3 separate regions of the Homo sapiens genome follow, and regions 1 and 2 are each linked to region 3. The links come from fine-mapping of genetic effects on gene expression. A gene starts in region 3. Each other region holds a variant in brackets. All regions are shown on one strand. Distances are from middle to middle. Region 1 overlaps MLKL (mixed lineage kinase domain like pseudokinase). Region 2 has its middle 200 kb from the start of PSMD7-DT. Region 3 holds the start of MLKL (mixed lineage kinase domain like pseudokinase).

What was found. PIP is the estimated chance that this variant, and not a neighbour inherited with it, causes the effect.
Region 1: its variant is fine-mapped to the expression of MLKL in whole blood (INTERVAL, PIP 0.94).
Region 2: its variant is fine-mapped to the expression of MLKL in whole blood (INTERVAL, PIP above 0.99).

Annotation. Positions count from the first base shown.
Region 1 is chr16:74,673,734-74,683,953 of GRCh38, reverse strand. MLKL (mixed lineage kinase domain like pseudokinase) reads left to right here. Exons shown (of 11, transcript NM_152649.4): 6 at 1,168-1,303; 7 at 4,974-5,055; 8 at 8,190-8,341; 9 at 8,550-8,599; 10 at 8,854-8,994. Among named protein-coding and RNA genes, the nearest start is that of RFWD3, 12 kb to the right of the region's middle. RefSeq lists a silencer at 1,689-1,887. The variant G/ATAAG (reference allele first, on the strand shown) is at 6,913.
Region 2 is chr16:74,007,352-74,018,919 of GRCh38, reverse strand. No RefSeq gene overlaps it. Among named protein-coding and RNA genes, the nearest start is that of PSMD7-DT, 200 kb to the left of the region's middle. The variant A/G (reference allele first, on the strand shown) is at 5,792.
Region 3 is chr16:74,696,074-74,707,641 of GRCh38, reverse strand. MLKL (mixed lineage kinase domain like pseudokinase) reads left to right here and starts at 6,780. Exons shown (of 11, transcript NM_152649.4): 1 at 6,780-7,189. RefSeq lists an enhancer at 6,877-7,326.

The DNA of each region.
Region 1 (10,220 bases), 23 kb after region 3:
AAATAAAAAATAAAGACAAATGTTCAGCAACGTTTGTTCTCCTTGGGGACCGCTGAGGTGCCTGGCTCAGTCACATGTCAGTTTTGCAGCTCAGGCCCATGAATGGGGAAGTCGACTTCTTGTCTGAGTCCTCACCCGCCCCTGCCATGTGTGCCCTACTCATTCCTCCCACACAGATGTACGAAGCTTCTTGTGAGCACCCATGTGAACAAGACAGACACATTTCCTGCCTTCTTGGGAATCCAGTTGAGTGAGGAAGACATTCGCCAAATAACTGCTCAAGAAAATTTTGAATTATACCAAGAAAGGGAGATAGAAGTTAAAAAAGAAAAAGAAAAAGAATTTTTTTTTTTTTTTTTTGAGACAGAGTCTCATTCTGTCACTCAGGCTGGAGTGCGGTGGTACAATATGCTTACTGCAGCTTCCACCTCCGAGGTTCAAGCAATTCTCCTGCCTCAGCCTCCCTAATAGCTGGGACTACAGGCATGTCCCACCACACCTGGCTAATTTTTGCATTTTTCATAGAGACGAGGTTTCATCATGTTGGCCAGGCTGGTCTCGAACTCCTGGCCTCAAGTGATCCACCAGCCTCAGCCTCCCAAAGAGCCAGGATTACAGGCGTGAGTCACCACACCTGGCAGAACATTTTTTTTTTTTTTTTGAGATGTAGTGTCACTCTGTTGCCCAGGCTGGAGTGCAGTGGTGCAATCTCTGCCACGCAGCTTCAAGTGATTCTCCTGCCTCAGCCTCCCAAGTAGATGGGATTACACGCACCTGCCACCACACCCAGCTAATTTTTGTATTTTTAGTAGAGACATGGTTTCACCACGTAGGCCAGGCTGATCTCAAACTCCTGACCTTGTGTTCCACCCACATTGGTCTCCCAAAGTGCTGGGATTACAGGCATGAGCCAACGCACCCAGCCAATTTTTTTTTTAAGGTAGAATTACGACAAGCCAAGTATTATGGAGAAGAGGATGGGAATTCTGGGCATATTTGGTCCATTCAAGGAGGCCGGGGACCAAAACTGTGGGCTGAGGATTGGGGGAGAAATGGGACTCAGCAGAGCCAAGTCTGTATCTGTACCGAGGCTGGGAGAGGTGGGCTGCAGACATGGGAAGCTTCAAGTAGGGCGGGTCCTCATAGTGTCTGGCTCCTTTCCACCAGTGACTCCGCCTCAATTCTCCATTGTCATGGAGTACTGTGAACTCGGGACCCTGAGGGAGCTGTTGGATAGGGAAAAAGACCTCACACTTGGCAAGCGCATGGTCCTAGTCCTGGGGGCAGCCCGAGGCCTATACCGGTAAGACGGGGTGAAAAGGCGCCACTAAGGGTTGGATGGGTCTGTCCACACTCCTGATACTCCCAGAGATGGTGAGAGAACAGGCCAGACGCCCCAGACAGTCTCCCTCCCATACACTGTTTTACTATTTACTCTGATTACAGATAGGAGGGAGGAAAGAGGCTTAACCCAGGGAACACCAGCTCCCAGAACTGACGGTTGAAATTGATGTCCACACTGCACTTATAGAGTTGGATGAGCCCTAATTTTGGAGTGGACAGATTTAGCATAAAAATGAACATATCCAGTTAAATTTGAACGTTAGGAAAGTAATGAATCATTTTTTAGTATAAGTGCATCCTAAACATTGCATGGTATATACTTATACTAAATATCAAAAATATCAAATTTTATTTTATGTTTTGAGACAGAGTCTCACTCTCTTGCCCAGACTGGAGTGCACTGATATGATCACAGATCACTTAACCTCCCGAGCTGAAGGGATTCTCCTACCTTAGCCTCCTGAGAAGCTGGGACTACAGGCGCACACCACTACACTCAGCCAGTTTTTTTTTTATATATATTTTTTGTAGAGATAAGGTTTTGCCATGCTGCCTAGGCTGGTCTCGAACTACTGGGCTCAAGCAATCCTCCTGCCTCAGCTTTCCAAAGTGCTGGGATTACAGGCATGAGTCACTGCACCCAGTCTCAAATTTTGGATAAACATTTATTTTTAGTACAACTATGTCCTATACAATTTGTGGGCATGCTTGTACATATATATATGCGTGTACGTGAATCTATATATTCATTGCTTATCAGAAACTCAAATTTAATGGAGTGTCTTGTGTTTTTTTCTTTTCTTTTTTTTTCTTCTTGAGATGGAGTCTCCCTCTGTTGCCCAGGCTGGAGTGCAGTGGCACGATCTCGGCTCACTGCAACCTCTGCCTCCCAGGTTCATGCCATTCTCCTGCCTTAGCCTCCCGAGTAGCTGGGACTACAGGTGCCTGCCACTACGCCTGGCTAATTTTTTTGTATTTTTATTAGAGACGGGGTTTCACCATGTTAGCCAGGATGGTATCGATCTCCTGACCTCATGATCCACCTGTCTCGGCCTCCCAAAGTGCTGGGATTACAAGTGTGAGCCACCGCGCCCGGCCGTGTCTTGTGTTTTATTTGGCAACTCTACCTATTCTCACCTGCAGAATCTATGGATTCTTAGTCCCAAGGGTCCCCAAAGGTTAGTCACTCACAAACCATCTGCAGGGTTTTAACTATACTACTACCAGTGTTATTTACTTAACATTTTTCATTACATTGACTCACTTTTTAAAAATCGGAATAAAGGCCTGGCCCAGTGGCTCACGCCCATAATCCCAGCACTTTGAGAGGCCAAGGCAGGTGGATCACTTGAGGTCAGGAGTTGGAGACTAGCCTGGCCAACGTGGCGAAACCCTGTTTTTACTAAAAATACAGAAATTAGCCCAGCATGGTGCCACAGGCCTGTAATCTCAGCTACTCAGGAGGCTTGAGGGACAAGAATCACTTGAACCCAGGAGGCGGAGGTTTCAATGAACTGATATCGTACCACTGCACTCCAGGCTGGGCGACAAAGCAAGACTCCATCTCAAAAAATAATAATAATAATTGAAATAAAGCTTTTAAAAAGGACACTTTCTCTTACTACCATAAATTGAAAACCAGTGTCACTTGCCAAAAATAGGTAACCACAAATGAAACCAAAACAATGTAATTAAATTCTGGCTGGATGAGGCTGCCTGCCAGAAGCTCTGTGATCCAACCCACATTCTCTTTGTACAATGGAGATATTGGAGATATTGGCAGAGTTAAGGATACCCAACACCAAGGCTGGGCGCAGTAGCTCACGTCTATAATCCCAGCACTTTGGGAGGCTGAGGCGGACAGATCACAAGGTAAAGAGATCAAGAGCATCCTGCCCAACACGGTGAAACCTCGTCTCTCCTAAAAATACAAAAATTAGCTGGGCGTGATGGCACGCACCTATAGTCCCAGCTACTCGTAAGGCTGAGGCAGGAGAATCGCTTGAACCTGGGAGGCAGAGGTTGCAGTGAGCTGAGATTGTGCCACTGCACTCCAGCCTGGGCGACAGAGCGAGACTCCGTCTCATAAAAAAACAAAAAACAAAAAACAAAAACAAAAAAACAAAAAAAAAATACCAAACGCAGACTTTCTTCTTGATGTAATCAGAAAGACTGGAGCAAACTGAAAGGAGAGTAATTTTCCCTTTATATAATCTTGCATACCACCTTATCCCACACTTTTGGAAACACTGTCTTAGCTATTAATTTGAAATTAAGTTTGTTTCTTCTCAACTCCCTAAACTAGTGAGTTTAAGGAGAAGTATTTTTGGATGTTGTAGGGGACACTGTTAATATCCCCTCCAAATGACCTCTGATCCTTTTTACCAGCTCTATTTACCCATCCCCCTCTCGGCATGCTTTGCTGCTGAAAGTTCACAGCTGCAATCTTCAGAGGATTGCCTGTGGGCACTGGAGCCCTTTCACCCTTATAGACAGCTGAAAGTGCCCACGAGTTTTATATCCATCTGTCCCTGCCCTCCCCAACACAGTCCATAACCACTGACTGGTGTAAGTATAAAAGTCCAGTTCCTTTGCTTCCTGTGGGACACACTCTGAGGTGTAATTGTGCCCACAGGTCTCCGCGAGACCACCTGAGCCTGGGATTTCACCTGAAATCAACCTCTTGCTTGATTTCTTCTCCTTCGCCATCCTACTTCCTGTACTCCCTCAACCATTTCTCCTGGGAGCACCTTCTTTTTGTTTGTTTGGGGGACTTTTGGAGTTATTTTTTTTTTGAGACAGAGCCTCATTTTGCTGCCCAGGCTGGAGTATAGTGGCGTGATCTCGGCTCACTGCAAACTCCACCTCCTGGGTGCAAGTGATTCTCATGCTTTAGCATCCTGAATAGCTGGAATTACAGGCACATGCCACCACGCCCAGCTATTTTTTTGTATTTTTATTAATAGTAGAGATGATGTTTCACCATGTTGGCGAAGCTGGTCTCAAACTCCTGACCTCAAGTGATCCATCCACCTTGGTCTCCCAAAGTGTGGGGATTATAAGCGCAAGCCACCATGCCTGGTCAAGGGAGCACCTTCTTGATACAAATCCCTCGTGCCCAAATCATGGCTCATGATCTGCTTCTGGGAGAATCTGAGCTCAGGCAGACACCATGAGTGCAACCCAACCTGGGACGCAGGGGCTTTGTGAAACCAAAGCCCTTGTCTGGAAGTCAGCGGGACCCCAGCTTCACATTCTGCTTTGACCTGAAGGGTCCCAGCAAGGTCCAGCCACCCAGCCATGCCTCTGAGCTCTCGGATCTGCCCAGCACTTCCCAGGCAAAGCAACACAGAGGCAACGTTGTCCTTCTCTACCTAAAGGCACCCCTGATGCCCGATTGCATGCACTTCATAAGGGCTGTCATGCCCCCTTGTGCTATGAATCTCATCTCTGTTCTATACTCACGGCTTGTGATTCTCAAACCTTGCCTCTACATCCCAGTTTTTCCTGTGTAACTGTGGACAGGCACCCATGGTACTGTCCAGCCTCATCAGCCCAGTTATGATTGTCAGTCCCCCAAAGAAAGTTTGGGCAAAGGTACTTATGCTCCCCGCCTTTGGCTGTGTCAGGCTACACCATTCAGAAGCACCTGAACTCCACGGAAAAATCAGAAGCTCAAACTTCCTGGTAACTCAAGGCTACCAAGTGAAGGTGAGTGTGCCTTGCGGGGGCGCTTTGGGTCAAACCTGCATGACTGGTGCTATGAGAGGGGCACGAGTGTCTCAGAAAGGCTTGATTCTTGTCTTAGTTTATTTATTTATTTATTTAGAGACAGAGTCTCTTTCTGTCACCCAAGCTGGAGGGCAGTGAGCGAGATCGCCCCGCTGCAACCTCTGCTTCCCAGGTTCAAGCGATTCTCCTGCCTCAGCCTCCCAAGTAGCTGGGATTACAGCCATGCACCACCACTCCTGACTAATTTTTGCATTTTTAGTAGAGACAGGGTTTCACCATGTTGGCCAGCTGGTTTTGAACTCCTGGCCTCAAGTGATCCGCCCACCTGGGCCTCCCAAAGTGCTGGGATTACAGGCATGAGCCACCATGCCCGGCCTTGCCTTGGTTTTAGAACTGAGTTCAATTTTAGTTTTTTAGTTTCAGAACTAACTTCAACTTTCTGTGTGCCCACCACACAACAGTCTCCATCTATGCCGCCTGTTCTGATGACTGCCTTCCCTCACTGCCCATTTAGCAGGGATGGGCTACAAGTCATTTCCCCTTAGATGCCTGGACACCACTTCTATGTCCCTACAACATACAATGGGGGATCTTGTTAGGTTTAAGGACTCAGACTCACAGGACAGGTCTAGGCCACACTTGTCATTCAGTTACTTAGAAGGATGTCAGCAGCGCCAAACCTTTCCCTCCAGGGTGAGTCCTCGCAGTCATCCAGGAGATACTCTCTTTGTCAGAGCCACAGGTGCTGGAGAAAGAGGCTCCCATTAGGTGGGTGTGGGTCATCCAGGCTTAGAAGCCCATGACCTGCAGGAGTCAGCATCTCTGGTAACAACTCTGCAGGCATGCCTTCCAGTGTTTCTGCAAGTGACATGTGAGTTGCTGTTTTAAGAGCTGCCACATCTGGGTATGGTGGCTCACGCCTGTAATCCCAACACTTAGGGAGGCTAAGGCGGGTGGATCACCTGAGGTCAGGAGTTCAAGACTAGCCTGGCCAACATAGTGAAACACTGTCTCTACTAAAAATACAAAAAATTAGCCGGGTGTGGTGGCGCACGCCTCTAGTCCCAGCTCCTAAGGAGGCTGAGGCAGGAGAATCACTTGAACCCGGGAGGCAGAGGTTTGCAGTGAGCCGAGATCGCGTGGTTGAACTCCAGCCCGGGCAACAACAGCAAAACTCCATCTCCAAAAAAAAAGAAAAAAGAAAAGAAAAGAGCTGCTACATGGCCAGGCATGGTGGCTTATGCCTGTAATCCCCGCACTTTGGAAGGGAAGGCAGGAGGATCACTTTGAGCCCAAGAGTTCAAGACCAGCCTTGGCAACACAGTGAGACCTCCCCCTCTTCAAAAAATTTAAAAATCAGCCAGTCATGGTGGTGCACACCTGTAATTCCAGCTACTCAGGAGAGTGAGGCAGGAGGAGGATGCCTAGAGCCCAGGAGGTCAAGGCTGCAGGGAGCTATGTTTACGCCACTGTATACCCTAGCCTGGGCAACAGAATGAGACCCTGTCTCAAAAAATAAAAAAGAGGCTGGGCGCGGTGGCTCACACCTGTAATCCCAGCACTTTGGGAGGCCAAGGCAGGTGGATCATGAGGTTAGGAGATCGAGACCATCCTGGCTAACACAGTGAAACCCTGTCTCTACTAAACAATACAAAAAATTGGCCAGGCGTGGTGGCAGGTGCCTGTAGTCCCAGCTACTCCGGAGGCTGAGGCAGGAGAATGGCATGAACCCAGGAGGCAGAACTTGCAGTGAGCTGAGATTGCACCACTGCTCTCCAACCTGGGCGACAGAGTGAGACTCCGTCTCAAAAAATAAATAAATAAATAAATAAATAA[G/ATAAG]AAAAATTTGCTACAAAGCATTCCCATCAGCTGTTTACTGTGTAGTCCTGTTACCCCCTTGATCCTGCCCAGAAGCAATCTAACAATCAGCAGTCATTTTTATTTTCATCATCAGCAATGTTACTAAGAGCCATAGGTGACAGTCTACCTGTATCAGATTTCCAGGGGAACAGAGCTAAGAAGTTCACTGGAAGTCAGATTTTCATACAGAAGAGGAAAAGATTTTGTGAACTCAGTGTCCACAATTCCCAAATGCTAAAAGAATTTTAGCAGTTTTCTTTGTCATCCATAGACGGTTTTCTTTCTTCCAGTCCTACGAGTGTCAGAGACAGCCCTCAAATAATAGCAGACAGGCCTTTTTTGCCTTTCAGATGCCTTTCCCCCTCTGCGATGGTGATATAAGTACTCCCAAAACACTGTTTCTACTACTCTCACGCTCTTCATGCAGCCTGACTATAAGATGCGCTATTCCACCTTTCATCCCTGGTATCCCATACGGCGCTAGATGTAAGAGAATGTCAGTGCTCAGGAAACGTGTGAGCAAATGAATGAATGAATGAATGAAAGGGGGATGAGCCATCTAAGTGCCTTATCCCTTTTCTCACATTGCCCCTAGATTTGGGTACCTGGCTGAGTTTGGGGCTGGCAGCCTTCAGCACACCAATGGTGTCAATGGCAGGTGTGCATGGGACAAGAACATATGCTGTCATGATTGTGCTACAGTTTCTTTAAGAACACCAGGTGACCGCGCAGGCCTGGGGGGATGACTCACACTCGTCACGCCAAAGCCAAAGGATCAGGCTGACCCCCCATAAAGTCAGATAGCACAGAGGGGATGCCCCCATGCCATTTTTCCATCTGCTTCTTTGGGAAAAGGCGAGCCAGGCAGTGGCTCTATGACCCCTCTCCACTCTCACTGAGTGGAGTTCAGTCCTCAACTGAGAAACCCCTACATTTTAACATAGTCATACTGGCAACAACTACAACTTAGCAGGTCTTACTGGTGCTTTATAACCATTATCTCAAGTAATCCCCCCTGTCATCGCCCCATTTTATACAGAAGAAATCTCTTTGTGTTTCTCTTGGTCACTGCACTGTGATAAGTTGAACCCATAATGTTAACCAATAAAGTAGCCACACAGACAGAAGTCACGACAGGAAATAAATCCCTAAGGTAAAAGACAATTCCCTGGCAATTGTGTGTAGCAACAATCCCTGCCCTTTACTCCTCTACCCAAGATCTTGCTTGTTTCTTTCTAAGTTGCCTCTCTATCTAGCTTGCAGGATTTGAGTTGAGGAAAACACAGACTTCCATGAGTTTGGGAACTACGAGAGAAAAGACAGACAGAGTCAAATCTACAGCATATCTCTCACCTCAGGAACTGGAAGATGTATTTTATCAATATGATGTAAAGTCTGAAATATACAGGTACACTCACGTTCTGGTACAGATTCTAACTCAGATGTGCATAATAGGAAAACCCAAATCAAACTCCTCCAAGGACCACCTAAACTCAACTCTGTTGAATGAAATTGGGTAGTAATCAAAAAATTCACTGAGTTTTCTGGCAGTGGCTAGAGGGACAGGGGAAAGGGGAGACTAGTTATGGTTGTTCAGTTTCTTGGTTTTCTTTTAGCTTTGGAATCGTCCTCTGGGAAATCGCCACTGGAGATATCCCGTTTCAAGGTGAAGAATGTGAAGACTGGCTCAGCCAGTGGTGAGGTTGGGTCCCCTTCCAGTAGACCAGAAATTCCCCATCAGTGCTGCCCCTGGCAATTTGTTGTTTAATGTGGGAACTGCCTGGGCTGGTCAGTGGAATCGTTGGAAGTTCTTGTTGTTTCCATACTCAGAGTCCCTAGTTCTGATGCCAGCCATCAGCATCCAGAGAGATGTACGAGTAGCGGAGCAATTTTTTGAGGCTCTCATGCTATCATTTCCAGGCTGTAATTCTGAGAAGATCCGCAAGCTGGTGGCTGTGAAGCGGCAGCAGGAGCCACTGGGTGAAGACTGCCCTTCAGAGCTGCGGGAGATCATTGATGAGTGCCGGGCCCATGATCCCTCTGTGCGGCCCTCTGTGGATGGTAGGGTTCTTTCTGGTGTAAAGAGCGTGAGCCCCATCATTATTTCACACTTGTGAAAGATTTCCTTTTCACCAGCTCCAAGGCAGTAGTTTACAACGAGGGGTGGTTTTATCCGGGGAACATTTAGTGATGTCTGAAACATTGTTGTTTGTCATAAGGCCAGGGAGGTAGGATGGAGTGTGCTACTGTCATCTAGTGAATAAAGGCCAAGGATGATGGCTGGGTGCGGTTGCTCATGCCTGTAATTCTAGCCCTTTGGGAGGCTGAGATGGGCAGATCACTTGAGGTTAGGAGTTTGAGACCAGCCTGGCCAACATGGTGAAACCTCATCTCTACTAAAATTAGCTAGCCATGGTGGTACATGCCTGTAATCCCAGCTACTCAGGAGGCTGAGGCATGAGAATCTCTTGAAACTGGGAGGTTGCAGTGAGCCAAGATCACGCCACTGTACCACTGCACTCCAGCCTGGGTGACAAAACAAGACTCCGTCTCAAAAAAAAAAATGTTGGCCAGGCGCGGTGGCTCATGCCTATAATCCCAACATTTTGCGAGGCCAAGGTGGGTGGATCGCCTGAGCTCAGGAGTTTGAGACCACCCTGGCCAGCATGATGAAACCTCGTCTCTATTAAAAACCCAAAAATTAGCCAAGTATATTGGCGCATGCCTGTAGTCCCAGCTACTCAGGAGGCTGAGGCAAGAGAATCACTTGAACCCAGGAGGCAGAGGTTGCAGAGTCAGGATCACGCCACTGCGCTCCAGCCTGGACAACAGGGCAAGACTCCATCTCAAAAAAAAAAAAAAAAGAATGCTATTCAACATCCTACAACGCATAGGACAGCCCACCACACAAAGAACTCTCTGGCAGCCCCAATGTCAATAGTGTAAGGGCTTCCAGAGGGCATTGTTTTATCCAAAGTGGGTTGGAAAGGCAGATTACTTTCTTCCTGCCTATTTCCTTCCTTTATTTATCTGTCTGCCTATTTATGGTTTTTTTTTTTTTTTTTTTTAGAGAGGAGGTCTCATTATGTTGCCCAGGCCAGAGTGCAGTGGCTATTGACAGGTAGGATCATGGCACTCTATAGCCTCAAACTCCTGGGCTCAAGTGATCCTCCTGCCTTAGTCTCTAGAGTAGCTAGGACAACAGGCACCACCACAGCAGCATTATCTTGTTGTCTTTTTGTCTTTCTATCTCTCTTCTTTTTCCTCTCTCTTGTTTTATTTTTGAC
Region 2 (11,568 bases), 690 kb after region 3:
GGGATATAATTGGTGTTTTGATAAATCTCTAGTATCAGAATCTCTTTTCTATTTGGGGGGAATTCTGCAATGCTATGAGTCTTAGTGGCGCTCACCTCCCACTAGAGAAATAACACTTCCAAAGCTGTGTGACAGTGAGAATACAGGTGTGTTCCCAGGTTTTGCTCATAGGACACCCTCATTTCAGAGTTGAGGTGAGCTGTAGAAAGACTGAGTTCCTGGGGAGCAAAAGTGATAGTGCTGGTCATGGCATCTAGTGTCTGTTGATGGGTATGTCTGCAGTGCAGACTGCACTGACCAGGACTCAGCAGTGGCAGCAGGGATGTCCTCAGTGGAAGAGTTCTCTGCTGTGACGCTAGCATTAAACCTAGCTTTGTATTGCTGAACCTGGATCTTCAGCTTCCACAACCATTCTGTGAGCTAGATAATATTTTTTAATGAGCATCGTCTTTGCTCCAGTAAGCCAATGTAGGTTTCTGTTACTTGCAACTTAAGACATTAATGGATAAATAAGTAGTACTAGGCCTGGTTGCTTCTAATGTGCTGGACAGTTCAAGGCAAAAGAATAAGCTCGGGCCGGGCACAGTGGCTCACGCCTGTAGTCCCAGCACTTTGGGAGACTGAGGCGGGTGGATCACAAGGTCAGGAGATTGAGACCATCCTGGCTAACGTGGTGAAACCCCGTCTCTACTAAAAATACCAAAAATTGTCTGCATGTGGTGGCGGGCACCTGCAGTCCTAGCTACTCGGGGGGCTGAGGCAGGAGAATGGCGTGAACCCGGGAGGTGGAGGTTGCAGTGAGCTGAGATTGCGCCACTGCACTCCAGCCTGCGTGACAGTGCAAGACTCCGTATCCAAAAAAAAGAATAAGCTCGAAGTCCTAAATTCTTGGCTTAGATAGAGACTTTCTATAATAGTATCAAAAGAATATCTTCTCTCTTGCAGGCACAAAGCTGAAGAAATTAAAAGTAAATTAAGACTTGAATCCCAAGGTTGCTGAGCTACCAAGTCAGTTGAATTTACAGCCAGGTGTGAAAGTGTATTGATTGAGAGAGGAGAACCTCGGAACTGGGGTAGAGATATGGGGAAGGGACAGAGTATGATGAGATCCCAGCCTCATGAGTCTCATTTGTTGGCTGGAGCAGCCTTCTTGCCTGTCTTACTCGAAAACCAGAATGACCCCCTTTGCAAAGGGAATTCCATCCTCCTTATGGCCCATTCTCAACATCATTCACCATCCCCAGATCCCTATCTTAAAGACAGATCTCAGCATGCCTTGGAATACCAACTGCAAAGTCAAAACTGCAAGATGTTGATAATTTTTATTTGCAAAAATCTGCTAAATGGATTCTCAAGGCAAATGAACAAGGAAAGAGTATAATTTTAAATTTGGCTGAATTTGTTGATATGGATTGACTTAGCACAGATTCTGGATTCAATATGGTAGCCCCAAGTGAGTGAGTGTGCTAGATGCCACACTAGGCATTCAACTCCTCAGGAAGTTAGAAACGTTGGAATGGATTTATCATCTTTGCCTAACTGTACCACGTTCTCTAAGAGGATTCAGAAGATAATCTCTTCAGTTATTTAGAAATACAGGAATGAGAGTGTTCCAGGTCTTGGAAGAGTGCCAAAGTGGCCATTCTCTGTAAGCTAATGATGCTGGTGAGAGATACAGCAAGGTTCCATGATTTCAGGGAGTTTACTGGATCCCAGGGTGGCAGAGGCTAAGTGGCAGCTCCAAACCATTAGAGACAAGGTGGTTATGGTTATTGTAATATGCATCATAGCTGGTGGGATAATGGTTTGATCAACTTTAATATTTGGAAGTAGCTAGATTTATAATACATTGTTAGCCCAATTAGGTTCTACTCAATAAGAGTAACAGAAATTGCATACTTGATAAATCAAGGCCTGACTTGAATTACCACAATGGTCACGACCTCTCAACAAAGTCCCAAATCTATAAAAGTTTATAGTTCCAGGCTTCTTTAAATAAAGGGGAAGTCAAATACCCTTGAGAGAAAGAGTAAGCTACAATAACGTCTCAATTAGTGGCTATACATCTTCTTATCCTTTTACAAAGTGACCTAAGCCATTTAAATGGGAACTTGAGTAAATGGGAACTTGGTGGGGAGAAGTGAAATGTTTAGACCTTTCAGAAAGTGTTAGACATTAGCTCTGGGCTAACACTAAGTCCTGGTGACTCAGAACACACTGTGCTTCTTCTGTGGTTCTGAGTATGGGTTTTATGGAATTCAGGTGATGGAGCTCTAACTCATATCTGTCTCATTGTAGGCCCAGTGGGACCTTGAATACATACTGTATTTCTTTAATTCATGAATGTACCATTGGAATATATATAATCAACAATGATGGAACCTCATACTGGCTTCTCACCTATTATACTAGAAAGGACTAAATGGAAAGAAACTTCTGGAATTCCTCTCAATACCAAGAGTAAATGAAAAGAAATACCACATCCCTGGGGGAACCATAGTGACAAATGTCATAAGAAGCCACTTGAAAGAGGTGGAGAAACTGATTCCTGTTGCTTCCTGACATAACTCTCTACTATACTTGGAGAATTCTGGTAGAGTATTATAAGCTTAACAGGTGATAACTTCCCTTAAATCAGGTGTTCCAAATGTGGTGTCTTTACTGAAGCAAATGAACATAGCCTTTACTGATCTTGCAAATCTTGTTTTCTCTATCACAATAAATTTAGAACATCAGTAGCATTTAGCTTATACTTGGCATGGATAGCAATATACTTTTACCACTTTGCCTCAGAGTTATGTAAATTCTCTGACCTCAAGCCATGATGTAATCTCTAGGGAACTAGATCATCTCATTATCCCAAAAGATATCAGACTAGTCCAGGACATCAATGACACTATGCTGATATGATCAAGAGAATAGAAGCAGTAGACACTCTAGATGCTCTGGTAACACACATGCATGCTAGAGAATGAGAGATGTATTCTTGAAAATACAAGGATATAGTTGCTATAGGGGTTTCTGAGGGTTCATTGGTTTGGAACATTTCACAATATATGCTGCAGTTTGAATCCTCTACCACTAACAAAGAAACAGCACCTGATGGGTCTATTTTCATTCTGAAGGCAGCATATCCCACATTGGGCTATGCTGCTTGAAGCCACTTACTAGATATAGCCAGTGCTGTCAGGGCCTCACCCATAACACCTCGCTACTTCAAAATTGCAACTTCCAGAACTGAAATTCTTTTTCCTGAGGGATTTCTCTGACTGCCAGAACATACCTTATTGCTTATTACTCTAAGTGTCTTGACATATTGTGATGCTGTATGAAGACTGTATTAAGTCTCATTAGGAGAAGCATAGTAAAAGCCCTGGGGTTTGAGATTGAAGCCATGGTCTCTTAGTTAAGCAATTAGTTTATTGAGAAACAGCTCTCCCCTTGCTTCAAGGGTCTTACAGAGACTAAATGCTTAACCATGACCTACTAGATAACTATTCAATCTGAGCTGCCCGTGATGCATGTCACAGGAGTCACTTAGCCACGTATTTGGGTATACTAAACTGCAATGGGTTTTCAAGTAGAGGTGGTTGTATTAGTCCGTTTTCACACTGCTGATAAAGACATATCTGAGACTGGGTGATTTGCAGAAGAGAGGTTTAATGGACTTACAGTTCCACATGGCTGGGGAGGCCTCGCCATCATGGCAGAAGGCAAGGAGGAGTAAGTCATGTCTTACACAGATGGCAGCAGGCAAAAGAGAACTTGTGCAGAGAAACTCTCCCTTATGAAACGATTAGATCTCGTGAGACTTACTCACTAAAATGAGAAGTGCATGGGGCCTGTCCCCATGATTCAATTACCCCTTACTGGGTCCCTCCTGCAACAGGTGGGAATTCAGGATGACATTTGGGTGGGGATACAGCCAAATCATATGAGTGCCATATATGGCATCTACTTCAAGGAGATTTTTCTCAACTCACACTTGTGTTTTCAAGGGGAGGTTCCTATGATTAAGGGGAAAAGTGGACACTTAATTACCCCTGATTTTGCATAAATTAGCACCAACTCAAAGAGGACTATTTTAGCATTATAAATACATTCAGTGGTAGCCTGGCCTCAACTTGTAAACTTTACCTTAACCACCATTGTCAACTGCCATTAATGAATGCTCAACTTGCTAGCTGTAGCCCCCAATATGGTACCATGCGAAATGGGGACCATCTAGAACCTAACTAATCATCAGTAGAGATCATCAAGGAGCAAAAGTAATTTTGAATTTGAATTTGCGTTTGTATTCCTTGCCTGCCATGCTTTAGCCAGCCTACCATTCTTAGATTGATTGAAGGCTTTACGTCCCATGATGGTGTCCCACAGCACATAGTTTCTAAACATAGTTTCTCTACATTGAAAGAAGTAAGGCAGCAGATACAACACAGAAGATTCATGCAGTCTCCCAGAAGCTGCAGTGGAGTCTGTGAAATAAAATTGTAGTTTTCTAACCTCTGTAGCTTAGGAAAACGTATATGAAATGGTAGGAATGGATACTAAGGACGGATCAACCATTTCCTACAATTTATGCAATCATCCAGAATGGTAGAAAGGCCTATTGATGACTCTGTTAGAGCTTCAGATTAGAGACTACCTTGTGAAGTTGGGGTGCTGTCCTGTGGGACGTGATGTGTGCTTTGAACTAGTGATCAGCATGTGATCCTGTGTCAGTCATACAACAAATGTATAAGTTTGGAAGCCAAGAGAGAGAAAAAGGCAATAGTATCTCTTACAAGTACAGCTAATGACCCACTCACAAAAGTTACTTTCTGTATTAGTTAGGGTTCAGTGCAGGAGACAAAAAATCACTTCAGGTATTTTAGGCAGAAAGGGCTTTCATGCAGGTAACTAGATGCTTATGAAATCATTGGAGACCAGGTGCAGTGGCTCATGCATGCAATCCCAGCACTTTGGGAGGCTGAGGTGGGAGGGTTGCTTGAGCCCAGAATGAGACCAGCCTGGACAACATAGAGAGACCCATCTCTACAAAAAAAAAACAAATTAGCTGGGTGTGATGGCATGTACTTGTGGTCCCAGCTACTCAGCAGGCTGAGGTGGGAGGATTGCTTGAGCCTGGGAGGTCAAGGCTGCAGTAAGCCATGATCATGCCACTACACTGCTGCCTGGGTTATAGAGCAAGACCCTGTCTCAAAAAAAAAAAAAAAAAGATACTGGAGAAGTAAGAATCAGTCATTTCGAGAATAGTTAAGTTCAAGAAAACCCCATGTAGATAAAATTCTGGAGTCAGGTAGTTGAAATAAAGAAATGGTTGGAATGGTGAATGCCTAGCAATTATATTTGGGACATTTCCCATCTCCGAAACCCTGTGATCTGCTACTTTAGAGGCTTAATACCCAAAGGAAGATGGTTTCCATCAGGGAACAGCAGTGATTGCATTGAATGAGAGGGTAAACCAACCCACCTAGCTATCGCAGACTTCTTGTGTCATTGGCCAAATCTGTGAAAAAGGATGTTCTGGGTTGGCATGGGAGATTGTTCTGGTCAATAAGGTTACTGCTATGTAATAGCAACAAGGTGTATGGAACCCAAGGGATGTTTTGGGATGCCACCTTGTACTGCTCCAGTGATTAAAATTTAATGGAAGAACACATCAATATCTCAAACCCCTCAGGAATGAAGGCAGGTCGTCATATTGGGTAGATAAACCTGGTCAGCTGAGTAGTAGAATGAAATTGAAGAGAACGTGGAAGGAAAAGAGTGGAGGGACAAAGCCCCCACT[A/G]CAGCCTCACATCCATCTGCAGATGACTGTAGCATAGGCCCATGTTTTCCTACCTGCTATGTCTCATGTTTGTTTATGTATCTTAACACATTTTATTCTCTTTTCCTGTTTCTTTTCTCTACTGTCTGACACTGTGTATGTTAGGGATTAACTTTACAGCTGAGTCTGTAGATAATAGAATACTGAAGAGTGAGAGTACCAGAGAAGATCTTGGACTTATAGCTGGAGGCATCAACTGAAAGGCCTTTAGTTTTTTCATCATTGGAGGAAGGAAGGAAGGAATGCTTTTATTATTATTTATTTTTATTTTTATTTTTTTGAGACGAAGTCTCGCTCTGTTGCCCAGGCTGGAGTGCAATGGCACAGTCTTGGCTCACTGCAACCCGTCTCCTGGGTTCAAACAGTTCTCCTGCCTCAACCTCCTGAGTAGCTGGGATTACAGTTGTACACCACCATGCCCTGCTAATTTTTGTATTTTTAGTAGAGATGTGGTTTTGCCATGTTGGCCAGGCTGATTTCAAACTCCTGACCTCAGGTGATCCGCCTGCCTCGATATTCCAAAGTGCTGGGATTACAGGAGTGAGCCACCACGCCACCCGGCCAGGAATGCTTTTAGATTAGATAAGGATGGTTGTATTAGGTTAGGTAAGAGCTTTATTTTGGGAGGTGGGGAGAAAAAGTATGAGGAAGAAAAATGTTTGTTGATGTGAACCAGTCAAAGGGTGGTCTTTCAGTGAGCACTTGTCATCTTTTTTGACCACCCAGTATCTGGGTCTCCTTCCTATGTTTTGTGTTCTCTCTCATCTTACTGAGTCTCATTGCAGGCGGTGTCTACCTCTTGCTGAAAATGCCAGTTATTTGTTTTCCTACCAGATCACCTTTTGCCCTCTTGCAGCTGGAGTACAAGTGGGCATCATCTAGAGTCCAGGGGTTACCCCCACAGTCACAGGAAGGCACATTCTCAAGGTCATCTCCTTGGTAGGGGCAGTGGCTGCATGAAGACTGTGTTCTTGGAACAGCAGTGCTGGTGTATTAGTGAGAACATCCTGCGTTCCCTGCTTGTATTCTTTAGTGCTTAGCAGTGACAGTAGTGCCCTCTCTCCACTGGCTCTGTGGTGTGATTTGGGGTCTTTTTGTCTGTATTGCCCAAGTTCTCTGCATTACCTATTATCCTTGTTCATTTTTCATCAGCCATGGTTGGCTTCTGTTGTTTCCCACTAGGAAAACCAACCTATTCAATGATGTAATGGAAGGAACACTGGACTTGCGGGCAGGAGCCTGGGTTGGAAACAGGAGATGTCACTTAGTGGCCATGTGACATGGGGCATATGATTTAACCTCTCTGAGTTGTGGCTTTCTTATCTGTAAAATGGGAACAACGTTCCCCATCTCAACTGTTCAGCATAAAGATTAAATGAGCTAATATGTGTGAAGGTTCTTAGATCTGTGCTTGTTGCATCCTGTTTTTATTGTTTTTGTTTTAAATAAGCAGCACAATGGGAATATTCAGTGTTTGAGCACACAGTAACTGTGCTTTTATCATAGCATAGGACTGTTTCATATTATTTTTATTAAAATGTCCTGGAAAAGAATATGTTGTCTTGCTTGTTCTGGGAGTACATAAAGTTACAGAGTTGTAATTGGCAATTCTGAGTACAAGCGTTCTTTACTTATTGTTTAAGCACTTCCATAGCATATAGTTCAGATTTCTAAGGGTAATCCTGGGAATTGCAGAGTAGCAAGGTACACTTTTATATCTGATCACTGTTAGAAAGTTTAATAAACTCAGTGACTATATTAATAAGCATGCCATTTGTGGTGAAAGGCAGCTTGTTTATTTTTTCAATCAAATTATTCTTACAAAGGAATGTTAGATATAGAGGGTATAAGTAGTAATTAAATGAATACCTATATACTCATCATTCAAATGAAGCCTCTTGTGTAACTCTCCCCAAATTGTTTCCCTGCCTTCCTTCTAGCAGTATGCGTAAAAAATGTCTGGAATTACGTACAACAAAGTGATAGCAGAGGTAGGAATGATGGGGTGTTTTCGCTGTCTTTATTTCTTTGTAGTTTGGATTTTTTAGGAGTATACTTTTTTTTTTCCATTTAGGAAAAACAATACATTTAGGAATGAAAATGACCAACCATGTTAATTACATTGCAGCAATAGAAATTAACTAATGAATTGGAAAACACAAACACAGTAGACTTGCCATATACAGTCATGTGTTGCCTAACAATGGGAATATTCTCTGAGAAGTGCCTCACTAGGTGATGTTGGTGTACTGTGAACATCACACGGTGTTCTTACACAAAGCTAGATGGTACAGCCTACTACAATCCTAGGCCATGTGGTCTAGCCTATTGCTCCTGGGCTACAAACCTGTACCGCATGTTACTGTACTGAGTGCTGTAGATGATTGTAACACAAAGATAATATTAGTGTATCTAAATGTAGCTAAACATAGAAAAGGTTATATTCCAACCTAAGACATCATGAGGTGAGAGGAGTTCTTCAGCTCCATTATAATCTTTTTTTTTTGTTTGTATTTCAGACAGGGTCTCTGTTGCCAAGGCTGGAGTGCAGTGGCACAATCTTGGTTCACTGTAACCTCTGTCTCTTGGATTCAGGCGATCCTCCTGCCTCAGCCTCCCAAGTAGCTGGGATTACAGGCATGTGGCACCACTCTTGGCTCATTTTTGTATTTTTAGTAGAGATGGGGTTTCGCCATGTTGGCTGGGCTAGTCTTGAACTCCCGACCTCAAGTAATCCACCTGCCTTGGCCTTGCAAAGTAATGGGATTACAGGCATGAGCTAACATGCCCAAACTCCATTATAATCTTATGGAACCACCATAAGACATCTGTCCTTGACCAAAATGTCATAATGTGGCTCATGACTAAGTACATTAAATTTCAGGAGCACATTAGCAACAAGTATTTAGACAATGAATAGTTTTACTGGCTTAACTACTCTGTGATTTGTAGTAATTAAAAAGATGTACCCTTGAGTCAGTGGAGGTAGTATCAAACCCAGGTCCAACACTTACTAGCTGTGAGGCCTTGAGCAAACCATGTAAACTTTTGTGCCTCAGTTTCCTTACCTTTAAAATGTGGATAGTTATGGAATCAAGCTTGTAACATGGCTGTGAAGATTAGATGGATAATTACGTAGAACAGTGGTATATAATTAGGATGTATGTATATACAAGAAATGGAATTCTGGGAAATGTAGTTCAGTCTCACCAAACCAACACATTGCAAAGCCGTCCTATTCTTCTAATTGCTCTTTTAAGAACTCTTATGCATGGAGAATTCTTCCTGGCCTCTGATTCACTCATTTTGTTTTCGTAAGTTTTATTCTGCCCTTCACTGCCATTATTAAACACCCTCATTCTTTTTTTTATTTCAAAGAATTCATTTTTGTTCTTAGATGATGGTGGCTTGTCCTTCTCTTCCTCCTCCTTTTTCCTTTTTTTCTATTCTACTCTTTCTTCAGTGATGAAATAGCCTCTTTCATCTCAGTGAGACTTGAAGTTAAATGTTCTTTATTGTTTTCTGCATTAACACAAGGTACATTTTCCTTATTGCCTGATACTAACAAATTAAGATCCGCATCTAGTGGGTTGCCAAAAGTAACTATGATAGAGACCTTTATGTACTACTCATGGAGATTCTAATTTGAAAGTTCCAGGGAAAGACGTGCAAATGTTACTTTTTACAATAGGTACCCAATAATTTGATACTATTTGTATAGACCAGTGTTTGGGAACTTCTGATGCAGGTCGTTTAGTATTTATCGCTAGTGTAGGCTCATGTTGGTTTTAGTGGTATTTTTTTTTTTTCATTTTTTTTCTTGTTAGAGTGTTCTCCAAGCATATCAGTGGTGCATTATTGGCAGGTCTTCCTTTCTCCATCCACAGATAGTAGATAGCAGCTGACCACCAAGTATTAATATTTCCCCTGTAAGTATAGAGGTTGATTGTGATGGGCTAGCACATGGGGTTCTTTAAAATTATACTATATGCATTAAATACATGCACACACTTACATAATTTTCGGATTTGAATATTTCAGGCCATTTCTTTTGAGTCTTTAATGTTTAATAAGCTAACAATTTAGGCTATGAATTTGCCTCTGGGCATAGCTTTAGGTGCAGCTTAAGCATTGCTGCAGTGGTATGATCATTGTGATTAGTTCCTAAATAATCTGAGAATTTCTATTAGGAGGTCTAAAAAAGTGTTCAAATTGCTGAAGGTTTTTGTTTTGTTCTATTTGGTTTTGCTTATGCTTAAGTGTTCATTATACTGTGGACAGAAAATGAAAAATACTTCCTGTGTAATTTTTACTGTTTGGAATTTAGTCAGTATTTCTTTTTAGGTAATATAGCAAACTAATGTTAAATTCCATGGTTATTAAAATGTTTGATTTGTGTGAAGGTATTATTACATTTTGACTAATGTGTCAGATTTATACCCTGGTGTTTCTTATGTTTATTAATTTTTCCTTCTTTTAAATTTATTTTTCTATTTCAGGGCAATGTTTTTCCATGTATAAGTGTTAATGACTATTATAGCATTATATATATTGTACCTTTTGTGAACATAATACTTTCTTTATTCATTGAATACTTTTGGCCTTGTTTTTTTGCTTTTACTGACATAGGAACTATTACTCTCTTTTGGTCTATGTTGGTCTGCCATATCTTTTTCTATCCTTCTACTTTTCAACTTTTCTGTGTCACTTTTTTAAGTGCTTAGGTAAATTGTATTTTTTCTTTAAATGTAATCTAGGAATTTTTGTCTGAGTGTTTAACTTATTTATATGTATTATTATGATAGATAGCTTAATCTATATTACTTTGATTTCTTTTGGAGCTTTTTAGAATATATTTTCACTGTTTCCTACCTTTTGAATCATGACTTATATACTCATTTTAATTTTCATCAGCATTTTTTTGAGGTGGAGTTTCAGAATATATTCTATATATTTTCTATAAGTGGTGACCATGCTTTTTCCCAAAGCATTTATTACTGTATATATATTTTTAATTTTCAAAGCTGACCAAAATAATAGCTTAAACAAAACAGTAGTTGGCAGCATTCTCTGGGTTAATGAGTAAGGAAAGAAACCTTTTTCCATCTTGACTCTTGCCAGTTACTGTAGGAGCCAGCCAGAAAAAACTACACCTATTCCTGCAGCTGAGAATTGAGGCAGAAAACAATTTGAGATTTTGTGCAGACTTGTATATAGGACTTATTACGCCTTTTAACATATAACAATATACTATTTTAAGACCATAACGTATCTGCTCCCAGAATTGCCATCCTATGTTACTTTGTTTGCTGTAATTGAGTAAAAGTGTAATGTACCTAGAAAAGATTCAGGGAAGAAAAATGAAAATAATTAAAAGCAGTTGAGAAACTTCAATATAAAGGCAAACTTTAAAATAATAGGTTGGTAGTTCCACTCACAGAACAGAACTCTGGATCGAAGAAAGCTGCATTATATACATTTTTAATTGTTTATAACATAATGAATTCCCTTTTTAAAACACTGTTAATTTATATATATAGAAGAATCATTACATGCATCTCTTTGACTCCTATAAAAATTGGATATAGCTATTATTGCTCCTTCAACCAGAGAGATGAAGATGAGCTGAGATCATTTTCTTATTGTGTTTTTGCTTTGAATCAGGCCCTGGCTAAATACTTGACTTGGCTTTAGAAATAATAGAAATTATTCATATTTTCACCAAAACTATGCCCATC
Region 3 (11,568 bases):
AATGAACTTTTCATGTAATTTGAAATTTTGAAGTTATGTTAGGTTAAACAAAATAATAGATATTCGTTAAATGTCTGGGTCAATTTGTTTCATTAAAAAATAGTATTTTTTAATGAAATACAAGAACACATTATTTTTTATGAACCATATGAAAAATATTATTTTTTAATGAACAAAATTACTGAATATAAATACAAGTGTGTTCTTTGATGCTTACATTTTGTAAAAGATTACATTTATTGGGTCTATTAATACATCCAAAAATTTTATTATGGAAAAACATGTTTTTAAAAATTATGAAATGGGAGCCAGGAGGACTACTTGAAGCCAGTTCAAGACCAGCCTGGACGACATAGCAAGACCCTTTCTCTATGAAAAAATTTAAAGATTAGCCAGGTGTAGTGGTACACCACCTGTAGTGTTAGCTACTTCGGAGGCTGAGGCAAGAGCATCACTTGAGCCCAGGAGTTTGAGGTTGCAGTGAGCTATGATCACACCACGGCACTCCAGCCTGGGCAATAGAGCAAGACCTTGCCTGGGATAGTGACTCTTTCCTTCAACCTTTTCATCACCTCTTATAACTTTTTTTTCTCCAGTCTAACTCTGCCCTTATAGCCTGACACTGAAATGTTTATCTTAAAGGCCTGGAAGAACAATGCTTTCTTTCACTATACCTTGATTCTGTACTCTTGGCTACTCTTGATGTGTCTGAATTTTTGCCAGAAAACTTCCCATCCTGTTGCTAAGAATCACCTATTCCCCTTATCAAGGTACAAGTTTTCTTGTTTGTTTACTTTCTTCCTTTTTTTTTTTTTTTTTGAGATGGAGTCTTGCTCTGTCGCCCAGGCTGGAGTGCAGCGGTGTGATCTCGGCTGACCGCAACCTCCGCCTTCCGGTTTCAAGCGATTCCCCTGTCTCAGCCTCCCAAGTAGCTGGGACTACAGGCGTGCACCACCATGCCCAGCTAATTTTTTTGTATTTTAGTAGAGACGGGATTTCACCATGTTGGCTGGGATGGTCTCAATCTCCTGACCTCGTTATCCTCCTGCCTCAGCCTCCCAAAGTGCTGGGATTACAGGCATGAGCCACCATGCCTGGCCTACTTTCTTCTATAATACAGTGTACCCTCATAACCTTGGACACATTCTTCTTATGTCTGATTAAATTTTATTACTCTTTTCATCAGGTGTAACTTTCAGGTTATCTAAACAGCCTTCCTATAAAGAGAAGCAATCACAGTACAGGAAATTTTTCTTAATCTTTTTGGTAACTGGCCTTAAAAAAAAAAAACAAAGAATTTATGTTTTACCAAGACAATTTCCTATGTTGTCTTTATTAGGTTTCAGTTACTCAGGAAAACTGAGCTTTAAATTGGTTAAGGTTTTTACATCCATGTAACTTTCTGTATTGCTTTTTATTATTATTATTATTATTTTAGACAGGGTCTTGCTCTGTTGCCCAGGCTGGAGTGTGGTGGCATGGGCTCAAGTGATCCTCCCACCTCAGCCTCCCGAGTAGCCGGGACTACAGGCGCACACCACCATGCCTGGCTATTTTTTTGTATTTTTGGTAGAGACTAGGTTTCACCATGTTGGCCAGGCTGGTCTCGTATTCCTGGGCTCAAGTGATCTAACTGCCTCAGCCTCCCAAAGTGCTAGAATTATAGGCATGAGCCACTGCGCCCAGCTAGCCTCTGGATTCTTAAGGTATATTGGCTTGTAGTTTTCGTTTCTTGTGTCTTTATCTGGCTTTAGTATCAGAGTAATGCTGGTTTCTTAAAATGAGTTAGGAAGTGTTTCCTCCTCTCCTATTTTTGGAAGAGTTTGAGAATGATTGGTGGTAATTTATTTTTAAATGTTTGGTAGAAAACACCGCATGTTCTCACTCATAAGTGGGAGTTGAACAATGAGAACACATTGACGCAGGGAAGTGAACATCACCCACCAGGGCCTGTCAGGTGGTGGGGGCTAGGGAAGGGATAGCATTAGGAGAAATACCTAATGTAGGTGGCGGGTTGATGGGTGCAGGAAACCAGCATGGCACGTGTATACCTATGTAACAAAACTGCACATTCTGCACTGTACCCCAGGACTTAAAATATAATAAAAAAATATAATAAATACAATAAATAAAAGTCTCCAAGAAAGAAAAAAATGTTTGGTAGAATTTACTGTAAAACTATTAGGCCTGGACTTTACTTGTTTGGAGGAGTTTTGATTATTAATTCAATTTCTTTACTTGTTGTAGGTATGTTCAGATTTTCTATTTCTCATTGAGTGAATTAGGTAAATTTTGCGTGCCTGGGAATTTGTCCATATCCTCTAGGTTACCTAATTGGTTGGCAAACAATTGTTCATAGTTTTCTCTCATAGTCCTTTTTATTTCTGTAAGGTAGATAGTAAGGTCCCCACTTTCATTTCTGATTTAAGTTATTTTCATCTTCTTTTTGTTTTAGTTTAGCTAAGGATTCGTCAATTTTATTAATCTTTTCAAAGAACTAACTTTCAGTTTCATTGATTTTCTCTTTTCTGATCTTGGTAATTTCCTCCCTTCTGCTAGTTTTGGGTTTGATTTGTTCTTCTTTTACTAGTTCCTTAAAGGGTAGAGTTGGGATAATGATTTGAGATCTCTCTCTCTCTTTTTTTTTTTTTTTTTTTTGAGATGGAGTCTCACTCTGTCACCCAGGCTGGAGTGCAGTGGCATGATCTTGGCTCACTACAACCTCTGCCTCCTGGGTTCAAGCGATTCTCCTGCCTCAGCCGCCTGAGTAGCTGAGATTACAGGTGCCCGCCATCACGTCGGGCTATTTTTTTTTTTTTTTTTTTTGTATTTTTAGCAGACGGGGTTTCACCGTGTTGGCCAGGCTGGTCTTGAACTCCTAACCTCGTGATCCACCCGCCTCAGCCTCCCAAAGTGCTGGGATTACAGGCATGAGCCACGGCACCAGGCCTCTCTCTTTTTCTCTTTTGTAGCCATGTAGCTATAAATTATCCTTTGAGAACTGTTTTTGCTGCATCCCCTAAGTTTTGGCATGTTGTATCTTTTATTTGTCTCGAAGTATTTTCTAATTTCCCTTGTGATTTCTTCTTTGTCCCACTAGTTGTTTAAGTGTATGTTGTTTAATTTCTGCATATTTGTGAATATTCCAGTTCTCTTTCTGTTATTTATTTCTAGTTTTATTCTATTGTGGTCAAAGAAGATGCTTTGTATGATTTTGATCTGTTTAAATTTATTGAGCAAAATATATCTTCATTTCTCTTGAGAAAATGTCCTTTTTGACTCATGAATTATTTAGAAGCATATTATTTGACATGTGATTTGCAAACATTTTCTCCCAATCTGTAACTTGTCTTTTCATCCCCTTAAAAGGGTCTTTGCAGAGCAAGTTTCAAATTTTGATCAAGTCTGATTTATCATTTTTTAATTTTAAGAATAATGGCTTTGGGGCCAGGCGCAGTGGCTCATGCCTGTAATCCCAGCACTTTGGGAGGCCAAGGCAGGTAGATCACTTGAGGTCAGGAGTTCGAGACCAGCCTGGCCAACATGCTAAAACTCCATCTCTACTAAAAATACAAAAAAAAACTAGCCAAGCGTGGTGGCACATGCCTGTAGTCCCAGCTTGTTGGAAGGCTGAGGCAGGAGAATTGTTTGAGCCCTGGAGGTGGAGGTTGCAGTAAGCTGAGATCACAGCACTGCACTACAGCCTGGCAACAGAGGGAGACTCCGTCTCAAAAAAAAAAAAAAGAAAGAAAAAGAAAAGAAGAAAGAATAATAATGGCTTTGATGTTATGCCTAAGAATTCTTCGCCTAGCCTTAGGTTCTGAAGATTTTCTTCTACATGTTCTACAAGTTTTTTTTTTTTTCAAATGTTTGTGATTTTTTTTTTCAAATGGCAACTCCAAGATAAAGCCAAAGAAACTGGGAATTATTTTTAATATTGTACAATTTTTAGTATGAATAGCCATTCTTATTAAATAGACTCATTTGGCCAGGCAAGGTGGCTCAAGCTCGTAATCCCAACACTTTGGGGGGCCAAGGCATGAGGATTGCTTGAGTTCAGAAGTTCAAGATCAGCCTCAGCAACACAGGGAGACCTCTGTCTCTACTAAAAATAAAAACATTTTAAAGGGCTCATTTAAACTTTTTTCTTTTCTTTTTTTTTTTTTTTTTTTTTGAGACGGAGTCTCACTCTGCCACCCAGGCTGGTGTGCAATGGCGCGATCTCGGCTCACTGCAAGCTCCGCCTCCTGGGTTCACATCGTTCTCCTGCCTCAGCCTCCCGAGTAGCTGGGACTACAGGCACCCGCCACCACATCCGGCTAATTTTTTTTTGTATTTTTAGTAGAGATGGGGTTTCACCGTGTTAGCCAGGATGGTCTTAATCTCCTGACCTCGTGATCCGCCCACCTCGGCCTCCCAAAGTGCTGGGATTACAGGCGTGAGCCACTGCGACCGGCCCTAAACTTTTTTCAAACATTTACATTTTCTCAACAGGAAATGTCCTTTCATTCTGCACAGTTCTCTCTGCTTTCTTCTAAAAGGTTCCTTGTTTTACATTTTACATTTAAATCTCTGATCCATTCAGGCAATTTTTGCATAGAATATGAGGTTTAGGTGAAGTTCATTTTTTTGTTCAGTTACTCCACCACCATTTGAACACCACCTATCTGGCAAAGGATTAATATCTAGAATATTTAAACTCTCAAAACTCAAGTTTTTTAAAAAGAATTCAACTAAAAATGGGCAAAAGACATGGACAGACATTTCACCAATGAGGCTATACAGATGGCAAACAAGCACATGAAAACATGTCCATCATCACCAGGCACTAAAGAAATGCCAATTAAAACCATGATGAGACCAGGCGCAGTGGCTCATGCCTATAATCCCAGCACTTTGGGAGGCCAAGGTGGGTGGATCACCTGAGGTCAGGAGTTCGAGACCAGTCTGGCCAATATGGCGAAACGCTGTCTCTACTAAAAATACAAAAAATAGACAGGTGTGGTGGTGCACGCCTGTAGTCCCAGCTACTTGGGAGGCTGAGGCTGGAGAATCGCTTGAACCCAGGAGGTGGAGGTTGCAGTGAGCTGAGATGGCGCCACTGCACTCCAGCCTGGGCAACAGAGTAAGACTCTATCTCAAAACAAAACAAAACAAAAAACCATGATGATATATCACTATTCACCTGTTAGAATAGCTAAAAATTCAGGCAGGGACAAAATAAAATGCTGCTGAGGATGCAGAGAAACTGAATGTCTTGTACATTGATGGTGGGACAGTAAAAAAAAAAAAAAAGAAAAGAAAAGAAAAAAACTTCCAAAAGGTTATACATTGTATGATTTTGTTTATAGCAGATCAGTATACCCATCCTGCAGCTGCTATGAGTGTTGACAGCTAAACACTCACACAGCTTCCCCCTCGTCCAGAAGAATTGCCCTGGGCAGAAAGGAGGCTGCCTCTTGTTCCAGACCTTCACATTCCAGACCTCCCCATGGAGCCTCCACTGACTACATACTTGTTTCACTTTTTCTTCCTCTGCCCTATCATACCCACCACTCTCCTAAGAGTCTTCCTTCAATAAATCACAGGCACCTGTGTTACTTGTTGAAGGTGTCCAGGTTCTTGGCATCTTGAACAAAGAAATGGGCAAAATGCACAAAGCAAGGAAAGAATGAGGCAACAAAAGCAGAGATGTATTGAAAACAAAGGTACACTCCACAGGGTGGGAGCCAGCGTGAGCATAGGGGCTCAAGAACTCCGTTACAGAATTTTCTGGGATTTAAATACCCTCTAGAGGCTCCCATTGGTTAATTGGTGTACACCCTATGTAAATGAAGAAGATGAAGTGAAGTTGCTCAGTCACTTACTCAGTGAACGCCATATGTAAATGAAGAAAATATTTCCTGTCATAGCTGAAATGTGTCCATTTTATTTAGTTCTAAGAAGTCAGCGTGAATCAGCTTTATGTTCCCTGCCTGCAGACCCTATTCTCCTGCCTCACCTCAATCTCTTCACCTAAGACAGGAAGAAAACTGATGATGCAGGAGACGAAGAACAATAGCAAGGCGAAGAAATGAATCTCCAAGGCCGGCTTCAAGCGATTCTCCCCTCTCAGGCTCCCGAGTAGCTGGGATTACAGGCATGCACCACCACGCCTGGCTAATTTTTGTATTTTTAGTAGAGACAGGGTTTCCCCATGTTGGCCAGGATGGTCTTGAACTCCTGACCTCAGGTGATCTGGCCACCTCCGCCTCCCAAAGTGCTGGAATTACAGGCATGAGCCACCACACCCAGCTCCCAGTTCTGTTCTTTTAGAGGCAAATAGTCTGTTGAGTAAATGCATAACACTACTTAGACTTTCTAGCTGAAGATGTAGTTAATCTTAAGAAAACCTGACTCACACTGTAACAGGATGTTCTGCAATGACCTTAGAAGAGGAAGTGACTTTTTTCCCACTTTGGTGTCTCTTCCCTCGTACCCTCCCCACCCCGCCAATATTATCCAGCACAGAGAAGCAAACACCAGAAGCTTCTCTCCAACTTTCAGTTTTTCTCTAAACTTCCAGTCCTTCTCATACTGTGTCCTGGTTATAATAGTTGCTGGGACCTTATTCTATTCTGAATCCCCAGCCCCTAAAGAAGGCTTGGTACTGACGTGTACAGCGTAGTTACCCAGTGACTTTGGGGAAGGCAGGAAGAGTGTGGAAAGGACAGGAGGAAGGAAGGGAGGGGCCGTGGCTCCGAGCTGCCTAGAAAGCGGCTCCAGGGAGCCAGGGCACCGTGAGCCTGGTGGTTGGCAGCTGGAGCCACGTCGGAGGGGGAAGTGTCGCAGCATTCTCTGCAGGCATCACAGACCTGAGGCAGTGGCCTCCGGAGGGCACTGGACAGAAACAGCCATCCAAGTGGCTGAGTGGAGGGACCCTGCTCAAGTGCAGCTGCAGTGGCCGGGGTTTCCCTCAGGTAGGGATCGGGGCGCCTTGTCGCCGCCAGCCACGTGTGGCGTCCGGTACAGTCAGCAGAGTGCAGGGTGCGGGCACCAGGAAAGGGGGCGCAGGGGAACTCCCGCGGGCCTCGCGTTTGCAAACTTCTCGCCTGGGCAGGAGGCGGTCGTGGGAAAGAAGGTGGAAGAGCGAGCTTTTTGGAACTGTGCACGGGACAGATTGGACGCACACCCCTCGGGAGGCGCGAAGGTGAGCATGGGGTCTTCCCAGGAGGCGGCGGGGCCGAGGGGCTGCAGCCGAATTCCTGGACGGTGATGGGAAGAACCAGGGGTGAGGGTGGCCCGGTCCGAGTTCCTGGAACTCAGGACCGAGTTGGTTTCATTTCCTCAGCTCTGATGGTGGAGCTGCCTGCTCGGATCTCGCACTACCTTCCGCCAAAGCGAGACGCCCAGTAGCAGTGGGGGTCGTGGAGGGCAGGGGCACGGGAACAAGTTACCTGATGTCTTCTCAGAAAAAGGAAGTCTTCAGGTTTGCAGGCTGAAGGCGTGAGAGAGAGACAGAGTGAGAGAGAGAGAAGAGGGAAATGCCTGATAACCTTTACTTATTTTATTTTATTTTTATTTTTTATTTTTTGGAGGGAAGAGGTGAATTTGCATTGTTATTACCATTTAAAGATTTTTCACTTTTAAAATTAGTAACCTGTTTTCTCATCGTAACATATGAACATAATCCCCTTTTTCTTTTTATTTATTTATTTTGAGAGATGGAGTCTTCCTCTGTTGCCCAGGCTGGAGCGCAGTGGCACAATCATAGCTCACTGCAGCCTCCGAACTCATGGGCTCAAGTGATCCTCCAACCAGATCCTCCCAAGTAGCTAGGACTACAAGGTGCACATCACCACACCCAATTAAATTTTTTTTGTATTTTTTGGTAGAGCCAGGGTCTCGCTTTGTCACCCAGGCTGGTCTCAAACTCCTGGGCTCAGGTGATCCTCCTACCTCACCCTCCCAAAGTGCTGGGATTACAGGTGTGAGCCACTGCAGCTGGCCTGAACATATTCTTAGCTGTTTGTTTTACATATTATAAATAGCACTGCAGTGAACATCTCGGTAGCCATCTATCTACAAACACAAGCTTTTCTACATCATAAGTTCCTAGAAATTCAAATTGCCCAGTCTAAGTGTGTATATATGTATATTCCCTTTCTTCCCTTGTAGATCATATACTTAATAAGACCTTAAACAATTTAAGTTATTGTAGGGTGCTTTTTCCCAATATTTTGCAGTTTTTAATATATTTTAATTTCATACAGGCAAGTCCCCTTTTCTTTATTTTTTAAAATCCTGGTTATCCCTACTAATTTCCCATTTCAAATGAACTTTAGGATCATTTTGATTTAATGCCAAAATATGTCAGTAGATGTTTTATTGGAACTGCATTAAATTGGATTTAAATTTGGGAAGGATTGCTGGGTTGGTCTGTTTTAGTCTTCCCAGCCAGAAATATAACACTTCTCTTTCCTCCTTTCTTCAAGCTTTGTTTTGTGCAATTTTCTTTCTTTCTTTTTTTTTGTTTTTGTTTTTGTTTTTGAGACGGAGTTTTGCTCTGTTGCCCAGGTTGGAGCACAGTGGTGTGATCTCGGCTCAGTGCAACCTCCACCTCCCGGGTTCAAGCAATTCTCCTGCCTCAGCCTCCCGAGTAGCTGGGATTACAGGCGCCTGCTACCATGCTTGGCTAATTTTAGTATTTTTAGTAGAGATGGGGTTTCACCATGTTGGCCGGGCGATCTCAAACTCCCGACCTCAGGTGATCCACCTGCCTCGGCCTTCCAAAGCGCTGAGATTACAGGCATGAGCCAATGTGACCGCTGCAATTTTCTTCATACCATGCCACCACTGTATAATTTATTATTTGAAATTGTTTGTCAGTTCTATGGGTGGGATATTTTCCCCATTTTCCTTTCTGATTAGTTCAGTGCTGAGATATGGCTTTCTGATGAGGCTGCTGGTAAGATAACTGGAGCTTAGAGCTAGGAAGCTACAATTTGCAAGATTCCTTGAACAACATTGCCACATTTGCTTCTGTTTCTGGTGCAACAGAGAAAGTGTAAAACCTTTTGCCCTCACAATTCCCAAGAAATGGCCTTGAAGATATCTGCTTAGCACGTGGGAATAGCTGGGTAGTCTGAGATCCACTAGTCTTTTTAGGAGTGCCCTAATAACTGTTACCTCCCTTGCCCAATCACTGTAACTCTCAGGCAACAAAAACACAACTATATCGATTGCTCATTTATTTAGTTTCACTTCTGCCAGTGCCTTACTCATGTTTTAAAGCCATACTTGGGCTCCAGGCCAATTATTTTCTCCAAGCTGCTAATTAATCCATAAACTGGCGATAATACTTAACCTACCTATTTCACTGAGCTGTTAAAAAAAAAAAAACTAACTTTGTTTTTTGTTGTCGTTTGTTAGTGGTGGTGGTGGTGGTGTTTTTGAGACACTGTCTCATTCTGTTGCCCATGCTGGAATGGAGTCAGTGGCACAATCATGGCTCACTGCAGCCTCGACCTCCCAGCCTCAATCAATTCTCCCTCCTCAGGCTCCAGAGTAGCTGGGACTACAGGCAAGCACCACCACATCCAGCAAATTTTTGTATTTTTTTGTAGAGACAGGGTTTCACCATGTTGCCCAGGCTGGTCTCGAACTCAGGCTCATACGATCCCCTGGCCTCAGCCTCACAAAGTGCTGGGATTACAGGTTTGAGTCATGACACCCTACCCTAACTTTATTTTAAATACTTTGAAAACTGGTTCCATGGCCTTGTGATTATTTGAATGCAACCTCCCTGAACCGCAGCATCTTCACTTTTCACCTGTTTGTTTTTTCGAGACAGGGTCTCTCTGTTTCCCTGGCTGGAGTGCAGTGGTGTCATCATAGCTCACTGCAGCCTCAACCTCCCAGGCTCAAGCGATTCTCCCGCCTCAGCCTCCTGAGTAGCTGGGACTACAGGTCCCAGCTAATTTTTGTATTTTTAGTAGAGATGGGTCTCGCTGTGTTGCCCAGAATGGAACTCCTGGCCTCAAGCAATCTTCCCACCTCTACCTCCCAAAATGTTGGGATTACGGGTATGAACTACTGTGCCCAGATGGTATCTTCATCTGTTAAATGAAAATAACCATGGAGAGCTGGGGGTTCCAAAGCACTTAGGATGTAGTAGGTGAATTGAGAGATCTAGTGTCATAATTATTATCATCATTCATTGCTGAACGCAGTCGGCTTCAGTTGCAAATAAAGCAAACATGATTCAAACTGCCTTAAACAATCAGGGAGGTTATTGGTTCATGAAACCTGCAGTTAGGGGATGGGGTACACTTCATGTCAGTTCAAACCAGTGGCTCAATGTTGTCATCAAAGACTCAGATTCTTTCTCCCTTTCCATTCTACCATGCTCAGGTTAGCCTCATTCCAAGCTTTAGGATCAGGGCTCTGTGCTTCCTCACTCATGTTCAGAGAAGAGAGAGAGGTTAAGAGTAGGAAGCTGGCACTGCAGCCTCAACCTCCTGGACTCAAGGAATCCTCCTATCTCAACTTCCCAGGTAGCTGAGACTACGGGTGTGTGCCACCACACCAGGCTAACTTATATATATAATATATATGTAATATTATATATATGTATTACTATATATATGTAATATTATATATATGTATTACTATATATGTAATATTACATATATATTACTATATATATGTAATATTATATATATTACTATATATATGTAATGTATTACATTTTTTTGAGATGGTGCAACCTCCACCCCCTGGGTTCAAGCAATTCTCCTGGCTTAGCCCTCCGAGTAGCTGGGATTACAGGCATGCACCACCACACCTAGCTAATTTTTGTATTTTTAGTAGAGACGGGGTTTCACCATGTTGGCCAGGCTGGTTTCCAACTCCTGACCTCAAGTGATCCGCCCACCTCAGCCTTCCAAAGTGCTGGGATTACTGGCGTGAGTCACCGCGCCCAGCCAATTTTATATTTTATTTATTTCATTTTATTTTATTTTATTTTTTTTATTTTTGTAGAGAAAGGGTCTCACTTTGCTGTCCAGACTGGTCTGGAACTCCTGGCCTCAAGCAATCCTCCTGTCTCTTCCTCTCAAAGTGCTGGGATTATCGGTGGGAGCCACCTCGCCCAGCTGCATTTTTCTTAAAGGACTGTAGGAAGAAACTGAACAATTTTTTGTAGGAAAAATGAAAGATAGTCCACATGTTTTAAAAAAAAACAGAAAGAAACATATTTATCTGTGGCAGTAAAGACTACCTCAGCTCACTTCACTCATTTGAATTACCCGCCTGGCCCCTGAAACCTCTATGCTTTAGCAGGATATATCTGTAATAGACGAAACTGATATAAACATATCAACCTGAAAATATTAACGGTTTACATGCAATACAAGTTTATTCCTTGATCACTTAACAGTCCATGACAGACGTTCCAGGTCTGTGGGCAGCTCTCCTCCAAGTGATTATCCAGGGACTCAGGACTCTTCTTGGGGCTCCACCACCCCAGGGCCGCTTCACCCCACGCATCCAGCCAACCAAGGGAGAGTGTGAGGAGGCGGCACAGCT